Regions from separate parts of the Homo sapiens genome. Here all the other regions are linked to region 2. The links come from fine-mapping of genetic effects on gene expression. A gene starts in region 2. Each other region holds a variant in brackets. All regions are shown on one strand. Distances are between the middles of the regions. Region 1 has its middle 51 kb from the start of CYP27C1. Region 2 holds the start of BIN1 (bridging integrator 1). Region 3 overlaps BIN1 (bridging integrator 1).

The links. PIP is the estimated chance that this variant, and not a neighbour inherited with it, causes the effect.
Region 1: its variant is fine-mapped to the expression of BIN1 in whole blood (INTERVAL, PIP above 0.99).
Region 3: its variant is fine-mapped to the expression of BIN1 in whole blood (INTERVAL, PIP 0.96).

What each region holds. Positions count from the first base shown.
Region 1 is chr2:127,165,510-127,173,776 of GRCh38, reverse strand. It overlaps the pseudogene NIFKP9. Among named protein-coding and RNA genes, the nearest start is that of CYP27C1, 51 kb to the left of the region's middle. RefSeq lists enhancers at 2,280-2,831, 7,447-8,040, 8,041-8,267. The variant A/G (reference allele first, on the strand shown) is at 3,635.
Region 2 is chr2:127,104,055-127,112,294 of GRCh38, reverse strand. It overlaps BIN1 (bridging integrator 1), which reads left to right and starts at 5,141. Exons shown (of 19, transcript NM_139343.3): 1 at 5,141-5,435. The coding sequence starts at 5,352. It overlaps LOC105373605 (a long non-coding RNA gene), which reads right to left and starts at 5,150. Exons shown (of 4, transcript XR_923311.4): 1 at 4,480-5,150. RefSeq lists silencers at 5,014-5,073, 4,908-5,202, 5,084-5,293 and an enhancer at 8,013-8,240.
Region 3 is chr2:127,079,832-127,087,831 of GRCh38, reverse strand. All of the region lies in intron 1 of BIN1 (bridging integrator 1), which reads left to right. Among named protein-coding and RNA genes, the nearest start is that of BIN1, 23 kb to the left of the region's middle. RefSeq lists enhancers at 281-1,258, 2,666-2,805, 5,278-5,477, 5,518-5,577, 6,148-6,277 and 1 more. The variant G/A (reference allele first, on the strand shown) is at 3,639.

The DNA.
Region 1 (8,267 bases), 61 kb before region 2:
AGGTCGGGAGTTCAAGACCAGCCTGACCAACGTGGAGAAACCCTGTCTCTACTAAAAATACAAAATTAGCCGGGCGTGGTGGTGCATGCCTGTAATCTCAGTTACGGGGAGGCTGAGGCAGGAGAATCACTTGAACCCGGGAAGCGGAGGTTGCGGTGAGCTGAGATGATGCCATTGCACTCCAGCCTGGGCAAAGAGAGTGAAACTCCGTCTCAAAAAAAAAAATATTTGGTCAATTCTTCTTGGTCTCTTTCTCACACTGTGTGCGTGTGTGCATGTGTGAGTCGTTGGAAAATCAGTGGCAGACAGCATGTCACTTCCCCCGAACACTCCAGCAGCATCTCCTAAACACAGGCACATTCTCTGATATAACCTCGGTGCTGTTCTTGGTGCTATTATTCTTTTAAGAAAAGAATGGAAGGGAAAATATACTTGGCTTAGGAACGTGACAAATCCCCAGTGAGGCCTGGTTGCCAAGAGTGAGAACATGAGGAAGCCAGCTGGGAGAGTCTCCTTCCCTTGCTTTGAGGGAAATCCGAGGCCTAGCTTGTATTCACGTCATGACTTGAGCTTTACTTTGCTGTGCTTTGCAGGTGATTCATATGGGCAGGCATGATTTCATCTGAATGTGGAGGACCGTCTCTCAGGAACTCTAATTCTTCCCAGTGGAACTGTGAGAAACTCAGTCATTTGTCTTTTGCTTTTTTTTCCTCTTTTTACTTCACTGTCAATTTTCGAACCAGTATAGACGTTGAGGAAGTCTCATTCTTCTCAGACTGGCAGTCACTGCATACTGTGTAGTTACATCTTGCTGGTCATCAAAAAAATGCAAATTCATACGGGTGAAGAGATAGCTTAGGACCACATTAGTAAGTGTCCACAAGTTAGTAAATGCATGTTTGGCGGATGGTGAGGCCTGGTCCTTTGAAAGGAATGGCAAGCTGCGTGGGCACCCTTCGTGTGCAGGAGTGCACGTTTAGGTCATACTAGTTTTCAAGAACAATTCCAAAGTGTGGCCTGGGACCCCCAACACTACATTGCAACCAGTGAGCTACAACTCTCCCATCATCCCTCCAAACAACAAAGAGTTGATGAAGCAGTGTATACTAAAGATGGAAAACTGCAATATGTTCCTTTTTTAAAGCTATTTTCCTTCTGAATAATTTTTTTTTCTTTGAGACAGAGTCTGGCTCTGTCGTCCAGGCTGGAGTGCAGTGGCGTGATCATGGTTCACTGCAGCCTCAACTTCCCGGGCTCAAGCCATCCTCTCACCTCAGACTCCCGAGTAGTTCGGACTCCAGGTGTGCGCCACCATGCCTGGCTCACTTTTTCTATTGTTTGTAGAGATGAGTCTCACTGTATTGCCCAGGCTAGCCTTGAACTCCTAGACTCAAGCTATCTTCCCCCTTTGGCCTCCCAAAGTGCTGGGATTACAGACATGAACCACTATGCTGGGCTGTAATTTTTTTTTTTAAGCAATTGGTTCTTCACTTTTACTTTTGTATACATATTTTTTTTGTTATGTCTTTCTACTGCTGGATACGCAGGTGTCTCTGAAAATGGAACATTCCAGCTTTTAAAAACTTCATCATATGCTTTTTCATATGGCAGAAACCGACCTGTATTTTGAAAAGATAAAAAGTTTTGAGGCTGGGCACAGTGGCTCACGCCTGTAATCCCAGCACTTTGGGAGGCCGAGGCGGGTGGATCACCTGAGGTCAGGAGTTCAAGGCCAGCCTCACCAATATGGAGAAACCCCATCTCTACTAAAAATACAAAAATTAGCCAGGCATGGTGGCTCATGCATGTAATCCCAGCTACTCGGGAGGCTGAGGCAGGAGAATTGCTTGAACCCAAGAGGCGGAGGTTGCAGTGAGCTGAGGTAGTGCCATTGCACTCTAGCCTGGGCAACAAGAGCGAAACTCCATTTCCAAAAAAAAAAAAAAAAAAAAAAAAAAAGGTTTCAACCAAATGGTAGGGGAGGGATTTTAACGTTCACTTTAGAATCTCCTGGTGCCATTTCCCACAGCATAATCAAGATGCCACAGTTGATCTCATGTCAGAGTGATAGTGTAGCAGGACGAGCTGCAGACAAAACCCCTCAGACACCGAATTAAAGAAGGAAGGGCTTTATTCGGCCGGGAGCATAGGCAAGACTCACGTCTCAAAAACTGAGCTCCCCAAGTGAGCAATTCCTGTCCCTCTTAAGGGCTTACAACTCTAAGGGGGTCCACGTGAGAGGGTCGTGATTGATTGAACAAGCAGGGGGTACGTGACTGAGGGCTGCATACACAGGTAAGAATGGAACAGAACAGGACAGGGATTTTCACAGTGCCTTTCCATACAACGTCTGTAATCTATAGATAACATAACTGATTAGGTCAGGGGTCGATCTTTAACTACCAGGCCCAGGGTGTGGCGCAGGGCTGTCTGCCTGTGGATTTCATTTCTGCCTTTTAGTTTTTACTTCTTCTTTCTTTGGAGGCAGAAATTGGGCATAAGACAATATGAGGGGTGGTCTCCTCCCTTATTCGATGAGCCAGTTCTGCCCTAGTGGAGTTCGTCAGTGCTGTTAGACAGGAGCAACAATCCCCAACTCTACATTCAGAGCCCTTTCAGCTATTTTTCTCAAGTCCAACACAGCACAGCACCGACCTGGTACGTGCGGTCGACAATTTTCAGGGCACCTACCCAGCTCATTTCCTCTTGGCAAGAGCCATGCTTTTAATGTGAGAATGAACCCATGACCTCAGCTAGGCAGTCAGCTTCTCTCACAGCTATGGGAAGTGGACAGAGAGATGCCACCTGGGCAGCCTCGCCAGCTGTTTGGGCAGATGCCTGTGAACTTGGGTACCTAAGATGGCCACAGGCCGCCATGGGCACAGGGAGGCCAGAAACTTCGCTTTGCCTCCCAAGGGCAGCAGGATCTGGACAGGGATGCTGTCTGCACCTTATGGACTGCAGGGTAGGGGGCTGCACTGGCTCCTTTCTGCAGGATGAACTACTCATCTGGTGCTGTCACTCCTCCACTCCCCCTGGCTTATCTCACGTGGAAGAGCTGCAGCCATTGCCATTTAGATGGATTTTGCAATGCGATTCCTGACCTTTGATTCTATCCCCAGTGCCCTCAGGATAAATTCTGAACTCGCTGACTTAGAAGGCCTTCAGTAACCTGACCTGAAGCCTCTTCCTGCTCCCTCATCTCTTGGTACTTTTCCTCACATTACCTCACAGCCAAATGGTTAGGCACCTCTGGTTAGGCATTCACTGTCCCTCAGCCAGGAATGGTCTGTCTTCACTCCTGTCCCCTTCACCTGGCTCACTCCTGTTTAGTCTCCAGGTTTTAATGTCAATGCTACTTCCTCAGAGAAGCCTTTCACAGCCCATAAGGATGGGTTAGCTGCTCCTCCCATGGGACCCCAAGGTAACTTGTCCAGCTCCATTTAGGGTAAAAACAGCTCTCAGGCTGGGAGATTTTAAAATTCCAATTAGAATCTGCCTGCAGCATACACTGAAATCCTTGCACCATTCTGTAAGAGTCATCCCAGAGATGAAGTGGCATGTCCAAGCAGCTAGGCAAGCCGCCCTTCCCACCACAGTCACCCACCAGCAGCAGGCACCCAGGCAACCCCGC[A/G]GTAAGACAGGAGCACTTACACTCCAAGAGTCTCTCACCACAAAGGCGGTTGTTCATTGTTTCAGCAACTATGCTGCAAACACCCTCAGACTCAAACTCCACAAATGCATAGCCTATGTGAGTTGCAGTCCGCAACAGAAAATCCACAAGAAATAGACCAATCATCAGACTCCTAAATGCCGTTCATTTAAATTGTGTACATTTTTAAGCAGGTAGTATCATTAGCCTAATTATCAAATGACACTATGTCATCTTGTAATTCCAGTTCCAAAATCATATAGCTCAGAGCCTGCTATGGGAAAAGAAAATATCTTAATTTGAACATGCAGCTGAAGTTCACATATTCCTGGAATTTTGGTTAAATGTAATCAATACGTGATGACTATGGCTGGGATTGATTCAACAGCAACACCCCATTGTGGAGAGGAAATATGATAGTGCCCGGTTCTTTACCCCTTATCCACTTATTTGATTTCACTGACAGCTGTATTATTCATAATACTCCGGAGATAGTATAATGCTCTGTGAAGGACGAAGATAATATTCTCATATTGTTTATATGTGAGAGTTGAGATGAAACAAAAACAAATCCTCAGTATCTCCCGGCAAATCCATGAAACACTGCTCATTCTCATGCTCCAGCATGACCGGACACCTTCCCAGCGGGAGGCACGGGGACTGGGCCAGCACTCTTTGAAATGCACATCTCGAATTCGCCACTCGGCACCCTAGCACGAAGTGGGTTCTGTCACCTATCTTTGTAACAAGTATGTGGGTTTTGGAGTTCAAAGGCTCAGGTTTGGATTCTCGACTCTGATAAGTAAGGGTAAGTAACACTTAAGCATCATGAGCCTCAGTTTTCCATTCTGTAAAATGGGGATGCTAACCACTCTCAGGGTTGCTGTGAAGATATGAGATTGTGCACAAGAGCTCAACACAATGTGTGTCATGGACTCCATAAATGTTACCAGTGATTGGTGGTAATAACCAGAAAGGTTTTCTTTTTTTTTTTTCTTTTTTTTTGAGACTGATTCTCTCTCTGTCGCCCAGGCTGGAGCGCAGTGGCGCGATCTTGGCTCACTGCAAGCTCTGCCTCCCAGGTTCACGCCATTCTCCTGCCTCAACCTCCCCAGTAGCTGGGACTACAGGCGCCCGCCACCACACTTGGCTAATTTTTCATATTTTTAGTAGAGATGGGGTTTCACTGTGTTAGCCAGGATGGTCTCCATCTCCTGACCTCGTGATCTGCCCGCCTCGGCCTCCCAAAGTGCTGGGATTACAGGCATGAGCCACCGTGCCTGGCCCAGAAAGGTTTTCTAACCTTGCATTAGACAACATAGCTTTGGCTATGGATCAAAATTGGTGATGTGACTGGAGATAAGGAACCACCTGAAAGCCGCGTGGCTTAACAGGGTGGGAGTCAGGAGGCTCACTGCTAGCGCCAGCTGTGTCACTCATCAGCAGGTTGGCCACGCCCACCACTGGGTCTCAGGTTGGTTGTCCACAACAGAAGCATTCTAGTAAAAATTATTTTTTAATTATTTATTTATTTATTTGTTTTGAGACGGCATCTTGCTCTGTTGCCCAGGCTGGAGTGCAGTGGCCCGGTCTCGGCTCACTGCAGCCTCCACCTCCCGGGTTCAAGCAATTCTCCTGCCTCAGCCTCCCGAGTAGCTGTGATTACAGACACCCGCCACCATGCCTGGCTAATTTTTTGTATTGCTAGTAGAAATGGGGTTTCACCATGTTGGCCAGGCTGGTCTTGAACTCCTGACTTTGTGATCCACCTGCCTCAGCCTCCCACAGTGTTGGGATTACAGGCGTGACCCACCATGCCTAGCCACTCATTCTGGTAAAAATTAAACTGCCTGTAGCTGGGTGTGGTGGTGAGTGACTGGGGTCCTAGCTACTGAGGAGGCTGAGGTGGGAGGATTGCTGAATCCAGGAGTTTGAGACTGCAGTGAGCTAGGATCGCACCATTGCACTGCAGCCTGGGCAACAGAGGGAGACCCTGTCTTTTAAAGACATATTAGGCCAGGTGCAGTGGCTCATGCCTGTAATCCCAGCACTTTGGGAGGCCGAGGTGGGTGGATCATGAGGTCAGGAGTTCAAGACCAGCCTGGCCAATATGGTGAAACCCCGTCTCTACTAAAAATACAAAAATTAGCCGGGCTTGGTGGCACACACCTGTAGTCCGAGCTACTCGGTAGACTGAGGTAGGAGAATCGCTTGAACCCGGGAAGCGGAGGTTGCAGTGAACCAAGATTGTGCCATTGCATTCCAGCCTGGTGACAAAGCGAGACTCTGTCAAAAAAAAAAAAAAAATCAATGTCATGAAAAACAAAAAGCAAACACTGTTGTAGATTAAATAAGTAGCTTTCTACCTCCCACCCTGCCTGTAAAACCAAAGGGTGAAAGCATTTTGAGGATATCAGATTAAGCTCTATGTATTGACATAGTCTCCTAATTAACCTTCCTGTCCACTTACGTCTCCTAGAGTAGCTCCCTTGAACCTCAGTTAGTGTGACATGTCACTCTTGCTCAAAACTATGTTATATAATGGCCCATTAGACATCAGCCACATAACTGAGTCCTTCCTTTTTCCTCCACCTTATCTGTAGGAGAAAACACCTGTAAGACATTTTTTTTGGGGGGGGAAACTAGAACATTTTAAAGATGGGTGGTATACCATATACTGTGGAATTACTGTTATTTTTCTAGGTGTGATAGCAGTATTATGATTAGGTTGGAAAACACCCTTATTTTTAGGAGATGCACCCTGAAATATTTAAGGGCAAAGCACTATGGTGACACACTCAAATGGTTCAGAAAACAATGTGTCTGTCCATGGGCCGAGGTGAAGCTCATGTGTCTGGATGTTAACAGTGGGTGATGCCAGGTGACAGGTGCGTGGACGTTCATCACGCTGTCACTTCACCTTCTCTGTAGACTTGAACATTTTCAAAACCCAAAGTTGGGAAAAACAATGATGACTAGATAGCAGCATGAATTTTTTTTGCAAAATAATGTTGCGCAGAAGGTAGAGGAGATAGAATAATTTTTAGGATGAACAGGCAATTTGTAGTGGCTGCTAAACGTAAAGTAGTCAGCCTCACTAAGAATAAGGCAGATACGAAAACCCCGACCATTCTACACACAGAGTGACTGGCTAAGTGAATACTGCACAACCCGCCAATCCCATTTCTGACTGTATATTGTAAAGCAGTGGTTTTGAAATTCAGGATTTGTCCTGAGGGAGGAGAGGGGTGGGGCAAGGATGGGGCAGGGCCTCATGGTCCCGATTTCTCATTCCTTCTTTCACTGTCTCTCGAGGCAGTCCACGGGGGTCTGGGTCTTGCCCAGGGTCCCCAGAAAAGCTGCTTCTGCCTGATACAGCCTCTCCAGGACCAGTACCTTGAGAGCCTCTTGCTGTCAGTGGCCCCTCCATGGCCCAGAGTCCATGGCTATAACCCTCAGGCAGCCAGGACCCTTCTGTCCACAGACTGCAGAGAACATGGGAACATTCCGCTTGGAACCAAGCCAGACCTCATCGAGGTGGGAGGGGAACGAGCGCGTGAAAGGTGCTTCCCAACCTTACTCTCAATCCGACACCACAGACTCTGATAATAAATAAATCCCTCCTCCTGCACCCCCAGGGACACAGGCAGGCTGCTGCAGGCTGAGATGATGGCCTAGCGCTCTGGCCACCGGGGCCCTGGCCAGTTGCCATGAGAAATAAGGGAATCAATGCATTTTCACAGCCCCAGTCCATTGAAGGGTCAAAGGTTAGGAAGCTCCTCTGAGGAGAATTGGTAGGCTGTCAACACTGGTGATGGTCTTTCTTCTCTGGCCTCAGCTCTCCTTCTGTGGCCCTGGAGGCCTCCTCCTGCCCACAAAGGCCGCAGGACACTCCTGATTCAGCCCCTCCATGGTGTGCATGGGAAGGGTGTGAGACCATCCTGGAGGGCTCCACTAGGGGTTTCAACTTCTTGAATTTCACCTCCAAAAACTAGGGAAGAAGTAAATGGGATTTCCAGCTTTCACATTTGAAGATCGTGCCATCCCACAATGAGCATGGAAATCAGGATTTTCAAATTCCTCCTGCATGGAGTGAAGTGTGTGATGACACGGAAGTCCTTCAGGATAATGCTGTCCAGAGAGATGCTCTTAGGGCTATAAGATGCTGTATGGGGCGTGCTACGAGGGCCACCAGAGCTCCTCTGCAATGTGGGGGCTGGTCATTGTGCCGTGGGGTCCCAGGCCTCATCCACTCACTGAGCAGCTCAGTCTTGTTGGCAGCAAGTCTGTAGGTTGCCTGGGGCTTGGCTGATTTTGCCTGGTTGGCTTCAGCTGGTGGCTCTGTTGATTTTAGCTGGATTCCCTGTGGTGTCAGCTGAATGTCAGCTGGGCTTTGTGGCAGCTCTTATAGGGCAGCTCTGCTGGTCTCTGCCTGGCTTGCTCATGCATCTTGGGGTCAGGTGAGGGTCAGCCGATCCCGAGGTGGCTGGGTTGTGCTGGGTGGCTCTGCTGGTCTTCACTGGGCTTGCTGGTGCAGCTCAGGGTCAGTTGGAGTTTGGCTGGTCTAGGCTGGGTGCAGCTGGTGCTCAGTTCGCTGCACCTGTCTTCTCCTCTT
Region 2 (8,240 bases):
TTTATAGCAGCTTTATTCATAATGGCCTGAACTCAGAAGCAACCAAGATGTTCTGCAATAGGTGAGTGGGTAAATAAAGTGTGGTGCATCCAGAAAAGGGAACATTACTCAGTGCCAGAGGAAATGATCAAGCCATGAAGAGACATGGAGGAAACTTAGATGCATATTGCTAAGTGAAAGAAGCCAGTCTGAAAAGGCTACAAACTGTATGGTTCCAATAATACGGCATTTATTCTAGAAAAGGCTAAACTATGGAGACAGCAAAAAGATCAGTGGTTGCCAGGGGCTGGGGGGTGGAGGGAGGGATGAACAGGCAGAGCACAGAGGATTCTTAGGGCAGCGAAACTGTTCTATATGATACTCTAACAGTAGACACGTACCATTGTACACTTGCCCAGACCCATAGAACGTACAAGCCAAGAGTGAGTTCTCACATAAACTATGAACTATGGGGGATAATGATGCAACAACGGAGGTGCCTCAGTTGTAACAAATGTCCCACTGTGCTGGGGATGTTGATAGTGAGGGGGGTTGTGCATGTGTGGGGCAAAGGTTATGGGAAATCTCTGTACCTTCTGCTTACTTTTGCTCTGAACCTAAAAGTGTTCTAAAAGCCTGGCCAACACGGTGAAACCCCATCTCTACTAAAAATACAAAAATTAGCTGGGTGTGGTGTTGGGCGCCTGTAATCCCAGCTACTCGGGAGGCTGAGGCAGGAGAATCACTTGAACCCGAGAGGCAGAGGTTGCAGTGAGCTGAGATCGAGCCATTGCACTCCAGCCTGGGGTACAAGAGCGAGACTTCGTCTCAAAAAAAAAAAAATAAAAATAAAGTCTATTTAAAACAAACAAGCAAACAAACACAGAAACATGGCTTCTCCAGCCCTCACCGTTTGGATGCACGGCACACTCCCTCTGCCTGTGTGCTTTATCTTTCTATTCTGCCACACTGAGGTTTCCCAACTATTGCCCCAGGGGACATTGTCCTCATTTCAATTTGTATTTTTAATAGCACTTCTTTCTGATGACAAAAAGAGTACATGTACAAAGTTTGGAAAATAAAAAGAAAAAGAAGTAGGAGAAAAAAACCCCACCCCGAATTGCTCCACCTGGAGATATCAATCACGTTTTGGATCGCGGCTGGCACGATACTGTTTACATTAAACTGTATTATCCTGTTAACATCACATTTCCCTATCATGAGAAACTTCAAGAACATATTCTTTTGGTAAACATTTCATACATGGCCATACTATAGTTTAGTTAATCATTCGGCATTCAGGTGGTGATATTTAGATGTGTTCAGTTTTGCATTATTATAAATAATGTGATGAACATCTGTGTGGTGAAAGCTTTGCCAAATTTTTGAATTAAATCATAGACTTGGAATTATAGGGTGGAAGAATATGGATATTTTGGTTATTCTTATTCTATTACAAGATTGCTTTCTAGAAATTCTGTTATCTGTTTACACTCTCAGAAGTAGAATGTGAGTTTCTGTCTCTATGGTTTTATTAAGTAACATAATTTAAAAAATAATTTGTTGATTTGATGAAAATGAAAACAGAAATGGTATTTCATTGATTTAATGAACCTTTCTTTTTGTCTGGTAAGTCTGACTTTCGAAAACCTATTTATTAATTATTTGAATATCCAATTTTATAAATTGTCTACTATATATTGGGGTTTTAATGTTTTTCTTATGAATTTGTAAGAGTTCTATTTTATTGCCAAAAAAATTTTCCCTAGTTTCTTACAGTTTAATTTTTATGTCAAACTTATTTTCAAAATGGGAATAACTCTTTTCCTGGTAATTAAAATAACGGGCTGTCATGGTAAAAAAAAATAACATACTATAGAAAATTATACAGAAAAAAGTAAAAATCTACATTCTACCCCTTGAACTTGTACTAACATTTTTAGATCATTTCCTCCCAAACTTTTATCCTATGTTTTTATGGTATTTTCTGAAGTTTAAGAATTCTAATTTTTATGTACCTCAAAGCAAGCATTTTAAAATTTCAATATATTCTCCAGTGCTTTTGTGTTTAGAAATATCTTTTTAATCTAGCGATCTGATAAAAAATCACCTCTAAAAAAACAGAGCTGTGATTCTTTTTTTTTTTGAGATGGAGTTTTGCTCTCGTTGCCTAGGCTGGAGTGCAATGGTGCGATCTCGGCTCACCGCAACCTCTGCCTCCTAGGTTCAAGTGATTCTCCTGCCTCAGTCTTCCGAGTAGCTGGGCTTACAGGCATGCACCACAACGCCCGGCTAATTTTGTATTTTTAGTAGAGACAGGGTTTCTCCATGTTGGTTAGGCTGGTCTCGAACTCCCAACCTCAAGTGATCCGCCTGCCTTGGCCTCCCAAAGTGCTGGGATTATAGGCAAGGCATTATGTCATATTATAGAATATTAAGGAAATTAAGGGGGAAAGAAGTCAGCCTTAATGCCTGGACCCTAACACATCTGCTTCCTTTATGCATTGTTCTTTCAAGACATTGATCATGAGCTTTTAATTTATTTTAATTTATTTTTATATGGTTGCAAGTACAATTTCCTATCTTTTCCTTTCCTTCATAATTATGCCCTAAGCATTATTTTCTTGTTGCTACGTAGTCTCGGTAATGGTTGTTTTAAATGATTCCCAATGGCCCCTCCTGTGGCTGTGCTGTCACAGCTGACCCCATCCCTCTAATGAACACTTCCGTTGCTTCCAATTTTTCTGTCAAGCGATATTTAGAAACACCAGAGTCCAGTGAAGCAGAATCTCCCACTGTTCCCTGGGGGCTGACTGTAATGCAATTTGACTTTGCTCATTTCCTCCTTTCCTCAGAGGAGTGTTGGAAGAAATCACTTTTAGAGAATGGTTAGAAAAACGACCAACAGAAAATGAGGAGGAAGGAGATCATGAGCTGAAAGCATGTTGAGCTTTTAGGAGGAAGCTGCTTTAGAAGCCCAGACTGTGTAGGTTTTGCTTTTGTGACTCACAAATCGGGCATGAGTTTATAATAATTTTGACAGATGCTTTTCACTCATGCAGCGCTTGGTGCTTTTGAGGGCATTGGTGCAGGAAGGCTTGATGCAGAATCTCTGCTTATCATTTGCTGTCTGTGTGACCTACATCAGCGGCGCCTCAGTCTGTCTTCCTGCAGAATAAGAATACAGTCAGCCCTCTGCATCTGTGGGTTGGGCATCCATGGATCCAACCAACTGTGGACTGAAAATATTTGGAAAAATACAATAAAAAGTAAGACTACAACAATAAAATAATATAAATAAAAAACAAGGCCGGGCACGGTGGCTCACACCTATAATCCCAGCACTTTGGGAGGCCAAGGCGGGAGGATCACGAGGTCAGGAGATGGAGACCATCTTGGCCAACATGGTGAAACTCCGTCTCTACTAAAAATACAAAAATTAGCTGGGCATGGTGGCACGTGCCTGTAGTCCCAGCTGCTCGGGGGGCTGAGGCAGGAGAATCACTTGAACCCGGGAGGCAGAGGTTGCAGTGAGCCCAGATTGCGCCACTGCACCCCAGACTGGCGACAGAGTGAGACTCTGTCTAAAAATAAATAAATAAATAAATAAAAAATACAGCGTTAACAACTATTTACATAGTATTTAAATTGTATTAGCTATTACAAGAATCTAGAGATAATTTAAAGTATTTTGGAGGATTTGTGTACGCTATATGCAGATACTGTGTCAATTCATATGAGGGACTTGAGCATCCCTGGATTTTGGTATCCACGGATGTGCTGGAACCAGTCCCCTGGGGGATACCGAGGGACATCATGATAATAGGCCCGGAAGAGGACAGACGAACACACTGGGCCATGGGGCAGCACTGAGCGGTGGTGGAAGAACCCCGAGTAGCCGGAGAAAGAGCAGGAGGGCCTTCCAGGGAAGAGGGAATGGCCTGTGTGAACCCAGGCTGAACCTCTCATTCCTGGGACTCGATTTCTCCATTTGTACAAACTGCTTGGTTTGTGGTCTGCAAGAGCCCTTCCTGTTCCTCCAGGAAGCCTCTCAGGGACCTCTGTCCCTGGCCAGCTCTGCTCCTCTGACCGCTGCGGGTCCTGCAGGCCATAGCCCTGGCTCCTGTGTGTGCACCAGACACGTCTAGGCCTCTTCAGCGGGACCTATCTCTCTGCTCAACTCAATCAACAGTTCTTTAGAAATTTCCAGGGGCAGCAAAGTGCTGTAGCCCCTGACATGTTTTAGGGCTGAATGGGGGTGGGTATCAGCAGACTCAATACGTATTTATTAACTTAAAAGAAGTGTCATTGGTCTATTGGCAAAGCTGGTTAGCAATAACCTTATCTTCTCCAGGAATAATGATCACTAATCATTCCTTCCTGCTGGGGGTAGGAGACAACCCGGCGTATGGTGGTGGAGCACCTGGGAGACAGAGGCAGAGATCTCGTTCCTCGATCCCGGCGCGTTGGTTGTAAAGTAGGAACAGTAATAGCACCTACCTCTAGGGCCACGGAGACCGAATGAAATAATGCCTGTCAAGTCACTTAGTACACAGTAAGCACTCAGTAATGCTAGGTTGTTGTTATTATAATAAATTTTTAGCGAACGGGAAGACCAAGCACCGGTTGGTACTGGGCTAGGCGCCGTAGGCAAAGATGTGGAGATGTCCCGGAGGCGCCTAGGGTATCCGGGCGAAAACCCGAGGGCCGAAGGCTGGGAGGAGGCGGAGCGTCGGGCACCGGGCACCGGGCACCGGGCGGGAGGTGAGCCCCTGGAAAAGGAGGGGGCTCCGGGCGCGTTCTCCCAGCAGCCGCGGCTCCTCTGTTCAGGGCCGCGCCCCCTTCGCCGCACTTTCTCTTTGATTTCGAAAGCACTCCTCTCCTCCACCTAGTCTCCTTTCCTGGGTTGCAGGAGATTACTGCTTGCGGGGAAGACCAAGACGCCAGGCCGGCGGATTAGTCCCCGCCCCGGGGCGGTGCAGCTGGAGCGTCAGGGGAGTCCCGCTCGCCGCAGCCCCAGCGCCGCGCGCGCCCCTCCCTCCTCGCGGACCTGGCGGTGCCGGCGCCCGGAGTGGCCCTTTAAAAGGCAGCTTATTGTCCGGAGGGGGCGGGCGGGGGGCGCCGACCGCGGCCTGAGGCCCGGCCCCTCCCCTCTCCCTCCCTCTGTCCCCGCGTCGCTCGCTGGCTAGCTCGCTGGCTCGCTCGCCCGTCCGGCGCACGCTCCGCCTCCGTCAGTTGGCTCCGCTGTCGGGTGCGCGGCGTGGAGCGGCAGCCGGTCTGGACGCGCGGCCGGGGCTGGGGGCTGGGAGCGCGGCGCGCAAGATCTCCCCGCGCGAGAGCGGCCCCTGCCACCGGGCGAGGCCTGCGCCGCGATGGCAGAGATGGGCAGTAAAGGGGTGACGGCGGGAAAGATCGCCAGCAACGTGCAGAAGAAGCTCACCCGCGCGCAGGAGAAGGTGAGCGAGCCGGAGCCCCAGCAGCCGCGGAGTCCCAGCCGCCGCGGAGCCCCGGCCACCTGTCCCCCTATCCTCCGACCCCGGGGCCTGGTCCTTCGCCAGGATCTGGTGCTGTCACCTCTAGAGGAGCGCTTTCGAGGGGCTTCGAGGTCCCCAGGCTGCGTTCCCCGGCGCTCTGGGTGCCCTCTTAGGTTTGCGTCCTCTGTCTCCCCACACCCGGCCGGGGCAGGACAGGGCCCCGCTTTGCACCTTCGTGGCTCGGCTGCACAGCAGTGGCCGGCCCTGCTCCAGGCTCTTCTCAGGCGCGCGCTCCAGGCTACCCCGCTTTGGAGGCCAAGGGCCGGGAGGCTGGGAGGCCAGGTGGTGACCCTCAGCTCTCCAGGCCCATGCAGGCAACCTAGGCTGGGCCGGCGCTCGGGGCGAGAGGGAGTATGTCCCTCTGCCCCTGGGGACACTATTCCCCCGGACTCCCAAGGCTGCTTCTCGAACCGGCACCCACAGTTCCTTCCTTCCCACTGCTTCTCCACTTTCGTTCTCCGTGGGCCGAAGGAGGGATTGGGTTTCCTTTCCCGAGAGGTGCCTGCGGCCTGGAAGCTCCCGCCCAGCCCGGCCCCACCGGGAGCCCAGGGCTACGCACCCCGCAAGGAGGTGCCCTCGCCCCAGCAGGGGCTTAGCGTTTCCGGCGGCCGGGGAGCGGGTGGCGGCACTGGCTTTGGGAGCCCACGGCCGGGTGGGGAGCTGGCCTGGAGGAGGCGCGTGGAAGGCGCCACAGGAAACCCGACCCCTCCTCGCGGAGAGCTGGAATGGGGGATGGAGCCGGGGCCTCCCAGGGTGCCCAGAGCGTGCAGGAAATGCAGAGATTGAGGGGCGGGGGTCTGCACCCGGTCAGTTGTCTATCCCAAGCCACCTCTGGTTTATTGAATTGGATCACGCCAGCTGCTGACGCCACTTCCCCTGACGACTCCAACTCTGAAATCTGAGATTGCAGAATCTGTGTTTCTGCCAGGGTGGCCCCCCAGTGCCCCGCGGCCAGGCCTGCCCCCTCTCCCACCCGCTGCGCGGCCGCCGGGTGGAGGCGCAGGGACAGGCCGGCCTTCCCCTGCCAGGCCTGGTGGCTGTTTATAAACAATGACTTTTGCTTCTGAGACCCGCGGGCTCCCTAAGGATGCAACCACGTGATTGCTGGGGGATGGGGGAGAGGGGGGCGCCTAGAGCTTCCCCATACCTCCCTCAGAGTCCTACTGCTCATCCCTGTGTTTCCTGGCTAAGGAGGTGGGTGGGTGTGCATTGAAGGAAGGGCCCTCAGCCAAGTCCAGGTTTGCCCAGACCCAGCTCCCCAACCCCCCACCCCAGGGAAGGAGGAGGAGGAGGAGGAGGAGGAGGAGGAGGAGGGATTAAAGCCCCAGGAATAGCTGGCTGGGGGCTGGGAAGACTTCAGGTTGTGGGGTGGGGGGGTGGCAGCACAGATGCAGCCACCCCTGCTCCGGGCTGCCATGACTGGGTAATCCATCTGTGTGCCTGGAGCAGGCAGCCCTGGGCCAGAGCCTGCTTCCTTCCCTAAAGGGCCAGGGAGATGAATGGGAAGGGAGGTTAGCTGAGCTGTGTTCCCTGCCCCCTTCCCACTGGTGTCCCACCCCTTCCTGGCTCCCCAAGGCTCTTGGTGTGTCTCCTTTGCCCTGGTTGTCTTTTCTCTGCAGCAGCATCTTTGATGTCATTCTCGGGGCAGTAGGCAAGGGCTGTGTCCCCTCCAAGGAGGTGGTGATGTATCACTGAGCTCCTGAGACACCATCCCTCTCTCTTGAGCCCCTGTTCTGTGGCCACGGGCAGTTGGCTGACAGTTGGTCAGCTAGGCATGCTGGTCTTGGCCAACAGCTGACCTTGCCCATGCCGGGCTTCCTGGGACTGGAGTTGTTTAGTGTTCCAGCTGCTCTCTGCCTGCCGGAGACTAGTTAGGGACCCTCCCCCCATCAGAAACCAAGGCAGCATGACCATCATGACAGGCATCCAGGCCAGGTCTCTGAAAGTAGCCTTCCCCTCCCTTTGGGTTGCAGGCCCTGCTCGCAGGAAGCCCCATGCCTCAACCCACAGCAGCCTCTGCTGTGTGCCTTCCTGTAGAGTCTGTGCCATCATTGGAGGGTCATCCTCAGTGTCTTCTGTTGGTGATCAGTGCCGCCTCTAACTCCCACTGTCAATGAAACTGGAATCCTAGTCTCTTACAGGCAGCCCCACCACTATACCTACCTTGCCTTGGTGAAATCAGTGGGTAATAGGGCAATTCCAGTTTCCCTGTGGCTACAGGAAGGCGTTTCCTGAGCAAGGATGGCAGGAGCTGTGCTGGGAGGCTGGGAGAGTCCTGGCGTCCTGGCGTAGGAAGAAGGGCCCGTATCTTGCATCCACCCTTCACCCCCGGCCTTCCCACATCCACTTCCAGCCCAAACAAACATCCAGACTGTGAGGGTGACAGTGTGGTCAAGGGCAGCCTGCACTCTTGTAGGGTCCCCAAGCCAGCTCTTTTTTGACTGTTGTTACCTGTTGACCCTTCTGCCTCCACCACTGGTCTGGCTGATCCCTGAGGGCACGGCAGGGCACATCCAGGTGTGTGCATTGAGGATGTTACCTGGCCCCAGTCGGTGCTTAGTGAATGTTTTTGAACAAGGGATTTGGGCCTGACGCAGGCTGATGGTGGATTGATTTGTGTTGTTTGTTCTCTGCCATCACTCATTCATCAAATCCTGCCTGGACACAGGCCCAGTGCCTCCTGGGCTGAGTCCCCGATGCTGTCTCAGGCAGGGTGCATGTGTCTGG
Region 3 (8,000 bases), 24 kb after region 2:
TCCAGCCCTCCTGGTTGGAAGGTGGTGGGGTGGCTGATAAAATCCAAGGGCTTGGTAGCGGTGGGCCGTGTGCGGATTCTAGCTCATTGCTTACTGACATGGGACTCTCGGTTTCCTCACTGTGAAACGCCTCCCTCCCCTGCCAGGATTTGGAGCACATGTGGTCTTTGGATGAGCGGTTCCTGCTCTGCCGTCCGTCCTGCACTGCCCTTGGCTGGTCCAGCCCCGCCGGCCACTGTGAGAGTGCTCACCCCAGCCCCCTCCCAGCCTGACTCTGGCCCCTGCTGCCTCCACTCACGCTGTGTGCTCTGCTCGGGGCTCCCCAGGCCACCGCAGCCCACCCTGGCTTCCTCTGGGGTCCACGTGGCACCACCCTGGCTGCAGGCCATAGGCTTATCTACAGAACCGGCTGGAATTTCAGGCACCCTGGGAGGGATGAGAGAGAGGACGGGGAGGGGGCCTTCCTGGCCTGGAGTCAACTGGACACTCGTTCTCTGGGGCGGGAGCCTTCCCTTCCAGCTGCAGAGATGAGTGTGGAGGAGGAGACCCTGCAACTTCCTTCCCCTCCCCCTTCTTTCTCAGGGGCGGGGCTGGGCTGCCAGCTCTGATGCAGACAGGACCTCCAGGGGCCGGCCGGGCTGGGAGGGCTCTCTGTGTTTTCGTTTTTGACCATCAAAGCATTGTGGTGGGGCTGACGTAGTTGGTCAAGTTTTTATTGTCAGTTAAGGATGTAAAAGAGAAAACCCAACACCACTTTTTGCTCTCACCAGTATTTCACAAAGGAAAGGGAAAATCACCAAAAAGAGGAAGGAGATCATCATTTTAGAGTGACGGCCTCCCAAGAGAGGCCAGGCAGCTTCCTCAGTCAGCCTTTCTGAGCAGGGGACCACGGAAAAGTGTGATGAGTCTTTGTGGACTGGTGTCAGGGGACGGAGCATGGGGGCTTGTCAAAAAGGTGGATCGCCATGTGGGGGTGAGGCCAGGCGCTTCCTGGGGGTCATGGACTTGTTAAAAAGACGGATCACTGTCTGGACGCGGTGGCTCATGCCTATAATCCTAGCACTTTGGGAGGTCGAGGCGGGTGGATCACGAGGTCAGGGGTTCGAAACCAGCCTGGCCAGCATGGTGAAACCCCATCTCTACTAAAAATTCAAAAATTAGCCAGGCGTGGTGACGTGCGCCTGTAGTCCCAGCGACTCTGGAGGCTGAGGCAGGGGAATTGCTTGAACCGGGGAGGCAGAGGTTGCGGTGAGCCGAGATTGCACCACTGCACTCCAGCCTGGGCAACAGAGCGAGATTCTGTCTTAAAAAAAAAAAAAAGAAAAAAAGATGGATTACCATGTGGGGGCGAGGCCAGGCCTTCCTGGGAGGAATGTCTTCCCGGTTTTGTATTTCATCGTGAAAATCTTTGTCAGCTTTGCGTTCTAATCCACAAGCTGTCTATGTTGGTTATGTCACAAAAGTGTTTTCTTTACCAGTTCGATCTTTGGATCAAAGCAAGATGGAGTGTGAATCTTCTTCAGCAAGCTCCAGACACACGCCCGCTCCCCCCAGTGTCTGTGTGCCCCAGTTTGGGAGTCAAAAGTTGAGTCTGGGCTTTGGAACTGATCAGGTGTGGCATCCTGGCTCTAGAGCTCATTAGCTGAGTGACCGCCCTGACCCTCGATTTCTTCATCTGTAAAATAGGACCAACGGTCATCACCTCAGGGTGGCCTAGGGATATGAACCCAACGGGAGGGGGTTCAAGGGTGATGTGTCCCCCAAGGTGAGTCCTTGGAGGAGAGATTCCCTGGTGGTCATGCTTTGCACTGTGAGCTTTGTGGAGCTTACCTAGAGGGGCACATGTGGGGGCCTCAACTGGGCTCCATAGGGAAGGAATTTGATGGGGAGGGAGTCCCCTCTGAAGTGAGAGCTGAGCTGGCAGCATCTCCCTCGAGGGAGGGCAGGTTGACAGATGCCTGTCCCTAGAGCCAGCCCCTCCTGCCACCACCTCATATCCAGCCCAGGGGACATGGGGGCCCCAGGTATGGGGGCACAGAGGAGCTAGGGAAGGGGGCTGAGGCCTGGCTCAGCTCCCCCTTTCGGAGCAGCCCTGAGGGTGTGAGCTGAGGGGGAGGACCCCATTCCCCCAGAGGTGCTGGGCCCTTCCTGCTGGGGGTGCGTCTGGCCACCCTGGGCTCGCTCTTGGTTTCCCCATCTCTGGTTTTCTTTCGGGCTCCTTCCTCATTATGGGCTCTCCCCGGGCCTCCCTCTGCCTCTTGCTTGTCTCTGTGGCTTCTTCGTGGTTCCTCCACTTTCCTACTGTGCCCAGGAGGGCCATGAACAGGTGGCTCTGCCAGGGAGGGTGTGTGTGAGCGTGTGTGGGCGTCATCTCACACTGGAGGTGCTTGCTGCATGTACATGGCCGAGCTTGTGCTGCTGTGTGGGGCCCTGAGGGCTGGGGAGCGTTCTTGCCTCCAGATGGAATGCACTTATCTTTAAAGTCATTGTGCCTTTGAGAAGTTGGAAGGCATAGCCTGAAGGGTGGCTAGCCGCTAAGAAGTGTGCTGTGTGTTCTGGGCTTGCTTCCTGGGACTCACTTCCCGGTGCCCCTGGGCTCTGCTCTCCAGCAGGAACCTGGGCCACTTCTCCCCTTTGCAGCCACAGCTGGGGCTGCTGCAAGGGGCCCAGCTGCCCGTAGCTTTCCCAAGGAGTCTGGGACCCTCATTCTAGCCCCTCTGTCCTTGGCTGCAGGTCTGGGTGCCCTCCCCTCCCAACCTGAGGGTGAAGCAGCAGCTCTGGGGTGGGGCGGGGCGGGGGATGGAGGGAGAACAAGGCCTCAATCGTCACCAGGAGACTGCTAGCTTCTGGGTTAAGCACTGCTGCTCTGAAGACGCCTCTGTACGTGTGACTTCACTGGGTTCTGAGGAGGAAGAGAGTTTCCCTGGGCTGGATGAGACCAGGAAGCTGCCCCTTGTGCAGTCACCAGCCTGGGGCAGGTGCCACAGCCCACAGTCAGTGTGGCCTCCTAAGGAACACTGCAATGGGCTCAGAGGGCAGCTGCTAGGCCATGGGTCTGTCTCCTTTCTCACTTCTTGAAGCAGACAGACCTGAGTGATGATGCTTGTTCACCACCACCACAAAGCCACAGAATCTGAGCTCGGTCGCTTCTTCGCTGCAGAGCCAAATCCTTCAGTGCCGCAGCCTTTCCTTTCTTATCTCTAAAGCAGGGGTAATAATCTGCGGCTCTGAGCATGAGGGAACGCTGAAATGCCTAAGAGCAATGAGCATGCCTCTCCACCGAAGGAAATCAGGGTTCCTTGGAGAAATGGCTGATGCCAGGGCTGGGGCAGGGACAGTGCAGGCTGAGCCTGGAGAATCTGCTAGTGCCAGAAAGTAAGGAAGCGCCTGGAGATGAATGAGGACGTGTCCGAAACCTCCCACTGGTCGCACTTGGGATGTTTGAGCATCAAAATGAATCACGAACGCAAAACGAAGGACTCACGATATCCTCACCACCCTCCTCGCAAAGGCAAGACCAGGGGAGGCTCGTGTTTGTGGAATGCCGGGTCACGTGGAGGAGATTGGGTAACAGCGGGTTCCAGCCAAGATGCTATTGCAGTGCTTCTCAGACTTCACTGCGCATACGGTGCGCCAGG[G/A]GGACTTGTTAAAGGGAACACTCTGGTTCAGCAGGTCTGCAGTTTTTTTTCTCCTCCAGGCTCTTGGAAGACTGTCATGCAGCTGCCCACAGACCTCACACTGAATAGCAAAGAATGATGGATAGTAAAGGCACTGTGCAAAAATTTCAACAACTTTTTGCCTTGCCACAGTGACCGTGATTGTCCTGCAGATGACTAAGAGAAAAGTGACCTTCCTTTCCAAGAGATCTGGCAAACACGACTCAGACCCGGCGGTCAAGCCTAACACAGCTGTGGTGCGGTGGGAAGGCTCAGCCTCCCTCTGCAGGACTCTTGCCAAAGCAGCCTTTAACCTGAACTTCCTCACAAGGAAACAATCAGATGGATCCAGAGTGTGGGGCATTCTCCAAGTGATTGGTTTGCACTCTTAAAAAGATACCAGTATCACGAAAGAAAAAAAATGGATAACATTGATAAATAGGCATACGGGGAATATTCTGGACTAAAGGAACAAGAGACCCGACAATCAGAAGCAATATGTGAACCACAGTTGGATCCTAGACCCAGACATAAAGGGCATTTGGGGGGCACCCAAGGATATTTGAATGCGGACCGTGTGGTAGATGGTATTTTAAAATACATTTTGGATGTATTGGGGGTGCTTATGGTATCATGGGCATTTTGGAGCATGTTCTTGTTCTTAGGAAATCTGTTGGAGTATTTAGGGGTGAAGTATTGTGGAGCGAAGGTCATCCCAGTGACCCTTCTGCTGCTTACCTTCTGTTGGCTGGGCAAACATACAAATGCAGGAACGGTTTATATATAGAGAAAAGTGACTGGGCACGGTGGCTTGTACCTGCAATCCCAGCACCTTGAGGGTGCTGAGGTGGGAGGATCACTTGAGGCTAGGAGTTCCAGACAAAACTGGGCAACATAGCGAGGCCCTGTCTCTACAAAAAGTAAAAATACTAGCTAGGTGCAGTGGCCTGTAGTCCCAGCTACTCGGGACGCTGAGGTGGGCGGATCGTTTAAGCTCAGAAAGTCTAGGCTACTGTGAGCCATGATTGCGCCATGTACTCTAGCTTGGACGACATAGCAAGAAAAGAGAAAAGCAAAAAAAAAGAAAAAAAAAAAAAGAAAAAAGCAAATGAGTGTGGCCAAGTGGTAACAGTTGATTGGTGAATCTGGGTGAAGGGTAGATGATAGTCCCTGTAGTATCCTTTCCACTTTCTTTGAGGTTTATACTTTGAAAATAAGGAGGTGAGAGGGCCACATGAAATGTGGAGGTGAGTGGTGGGCTTAGAACCTCTTTTCCTCCCTCTGCTCTCTCGTCAGGGCTGCTGTGGCCTCCTGCATGGCACCTAGATTGTTGGAGGCCACCGAGACTCTCCACCCAGAGGTGGGGAGCAGGCTTAGGTGGCTCCACTGTCGGAGTGGGGATGGGGAGGTGTGAGCAGCAGCCGGGAGAGGGGTCCTGTGTGTCTGGTTGCAGGGACAGCTCGCATTTGAGAGATGGGCTTGGAGGAGGGGTTGTGTGCTGGGGAACTAGGTGACTATGGGATCTGCGGGACTGTCCTCAGACTGGCTCCCTCTGCCCCTGGGGGTTTAAGACTCCCATTGTACCCCTTTCACCACTGCCACCCCAGCCTGATGTGTCAGACAGCAGGCAGCATCTTGGGGCAGGAGAGGGGAGGCAGAGGGCCTTGTACCCCTTCCCCTGCCTGGGCGCCCACCATGGCCTGCCCACGCCAACCCTGGTCTCGGTGCAGACTTGTCCTGCGATGTCCCTGGTATCCCCAGCTGAGTGCCTGCAAGGCCTCAGAGCTTGTGACCACGGAGGCCTTCAGCTGGCCATCCTGCCCTCTGTCTCCCCTGCAGGGGCCCCTGGAGCATGAGGGCGGAAAGATCCCCGAGGCCAGCCCTGTGTCATCATCCACAGCTCCCCAGCTTGGCTGACCCGAGCTGTGTGTGGGAGACGACGGAGGAGGAGGGGCAAGGAAAGATTGACAGAGGGACAGCCCCCGGGAGTCAGTGAGCGAGCCTGGACCCAGAGGTGGGGGGCGGGGGTGGGGAGAAGGCTCGCCTTTGTCCTGTTCTAGGGGCCCTCCTCCCTTTCGCCTCTTGGGGTGTCTCCCTCGGGACTGGGCCCAGAGAAAGCCTGGCCGGGTGTCTGACAGTGGCCTTCCCCCTGCCCGCCTGCCTGTCCTCTGTCTGTGTCTGCCTGCCTGGGGAGCCTCGGTGTGAGAACGCCGGGGCACGAGGGTGTGCATCCTGCCTCCGTGGCCCCCGACCGCAGGCTCTGCTGGGAGGAAGGGGCGAGACAGGGCTCACTTCTCAGCCCGCCCTTCCTGTGCAGGCAGGTGGGGAGGAGATGATGCGGAAGGTGAGGGCCTTATGCGTTTTCTGGGGTCTCAGCAGCTGGGTGGTGGGTGCCTGGGAGGGAGATTTGCTGGATGAGGTCCCCCTTCCATGTGTGTGTGGGGGTGGGGTGTTGGGAACTCTGCTGCCACTGCAGGGACGAGGGGTGCCGCTGGCTGGTGGAGGAGCCCCTAGCTTTCTGCCTGGCCCTGGCCAGGACCAGAGTGACTGGGAACGCGGCCCTCACCCCTCCTTCCTTAGGCTTCCCTCCTGGGCCCCTGGGCTGGTCCTTCTGATGGCCTTGGGAAGTGCTTATCCCTGCCCTGGGCCATGCCATTCAGACTGTGGGTGTGTGTCCCGCAAGTGCAGCAGGCCCACTGGTCTCTGGGGCCGAGGGAGGGATCAGAGACCCCAGGAGGGGCTGCTGGGGCCCAGCCGGGTGAGCCCGAAGACCCGGCCCTCCTCACTGTGGCGGCTAGAGCTCCTGGCCCCTCCTGACTGGACGGTGTCAGGCTGTGTCCTGATTTGTTTGTGCTCACCTGCCATCTGTCACATAAGGACACTTCCCTTCTGAGGAGGCGGCCCTGGTGACTTGAAGTGCGTGCATGGTGGGTGGGTGCTGTACGTGGTGAGCTGCTCCTGGCTCAAACAAGACAGGCCTGGGCACCCTTCCTCCTTCTGGGTTCGGTGGCCGTGCACTGCCTGTGCCCCATGACTCACGCTGTGGGTCAGGGCCTTGCCTGCCATGCGGGGGCTGTTGGAGGGTGGCAGGACTCCCTGTACCCACAGGGAGCGGCTGACGCCAGGGCCTTCTGCCCTCTCACTGGGCCATGACAAAGGCCTTGGCGGAGGGCTGGGGAGGGGCACCCACCCACGGGATGCTCCCACTGAGCCCCTGTGGACCCGGGTGCCGGAGGCATGGCGTCAACTCAGTGAACCACCCAGCCTTTCTAGGGAGGAGCCTTGGGAGGGTTTCCTTCCACAGCCGAGGCCCAGCGAGGCTGAACCCTGTGGATGATTGCAGGAGGAGGTTCTGGAGCTGGCCACGGGTTCACACTTTGTCATTCCTGCCACCTGCCCCCCCTCCCTGCCCTGCCCTGGGGTGTCCCCTCCAAGGCACTTCAGCTCCACTCACATCTGGCCTTGGGTTGAGGACATGGTGAGAGGAAGCTCTGATAGGAGGTGATTGGGTGTGGCACTGATAAAGCTCCTGGGACTGTTGGCTCTGTGGCTGCCTCTGCCGCCTGGGCCTCTGTGTGTCTCGTCCGCCGCCAAGTTTTCAAAGGCTCCCCTTTGTTTATCACAGAGTGAGTGTGCGTGATAAGTGTGTGATGAGTGTAGGTGGAACTGATTGTCTAAGGGGCCCTCACCCAGTAACCCTGGACAGAGTGCAAATCCTGGCCTGTGCCGCCAGACCCTCCTCCTCACCCAACTCCTGCTCATCCTTCAAAACCCAGCACAACTGTCCTGCCCAGCTTTCCTTAGTCGCTGCTGGGCCAGCCCCTCCTGGACACCTGGAGTCCCCTGTGTCCCTCAGTGGTCTGCCTGTGAGCTCGGCACAGGGGAGGCCCCACTAACCAAGTGTGGAACGGATGGGGTGGGAGATCTGTGTCCCAGGGCTCACGGCCTTGTCCCAGCTCCTGTTCTGGGGCAGGGGGTGCCCAGATTGTTTTTCCCTGTGGTAGCCACACCAGGAGCTCCTTGAGGATGGGGACCCCAGGCCACTTGCCTGCGTTCCCTCATGGATGAAATGGGGGTAGGTGCAGTGAGGATGGCATGTGGCCAAGGCCAGCCTCGCCCATGGGTCTTCCCTGGGCCTCGGCCATGCTGTGGCCTTGTTATTCCTCCCATTTCCAAGGCGGGGGCACTGGAGCACTGAGAGCTTCAGCAGCCTGAGGTCTCGCAGAGTGGGGAGACTGGCTCAGCCTCAGGCTTGCTGTCACCCCTCAGGGCTGAGGGCTTTCTGTACATTACCCTTCCATTTTGTCTGGGAGGAGCCTGAGGCTGAGAGGTGGGTTGTTTTGT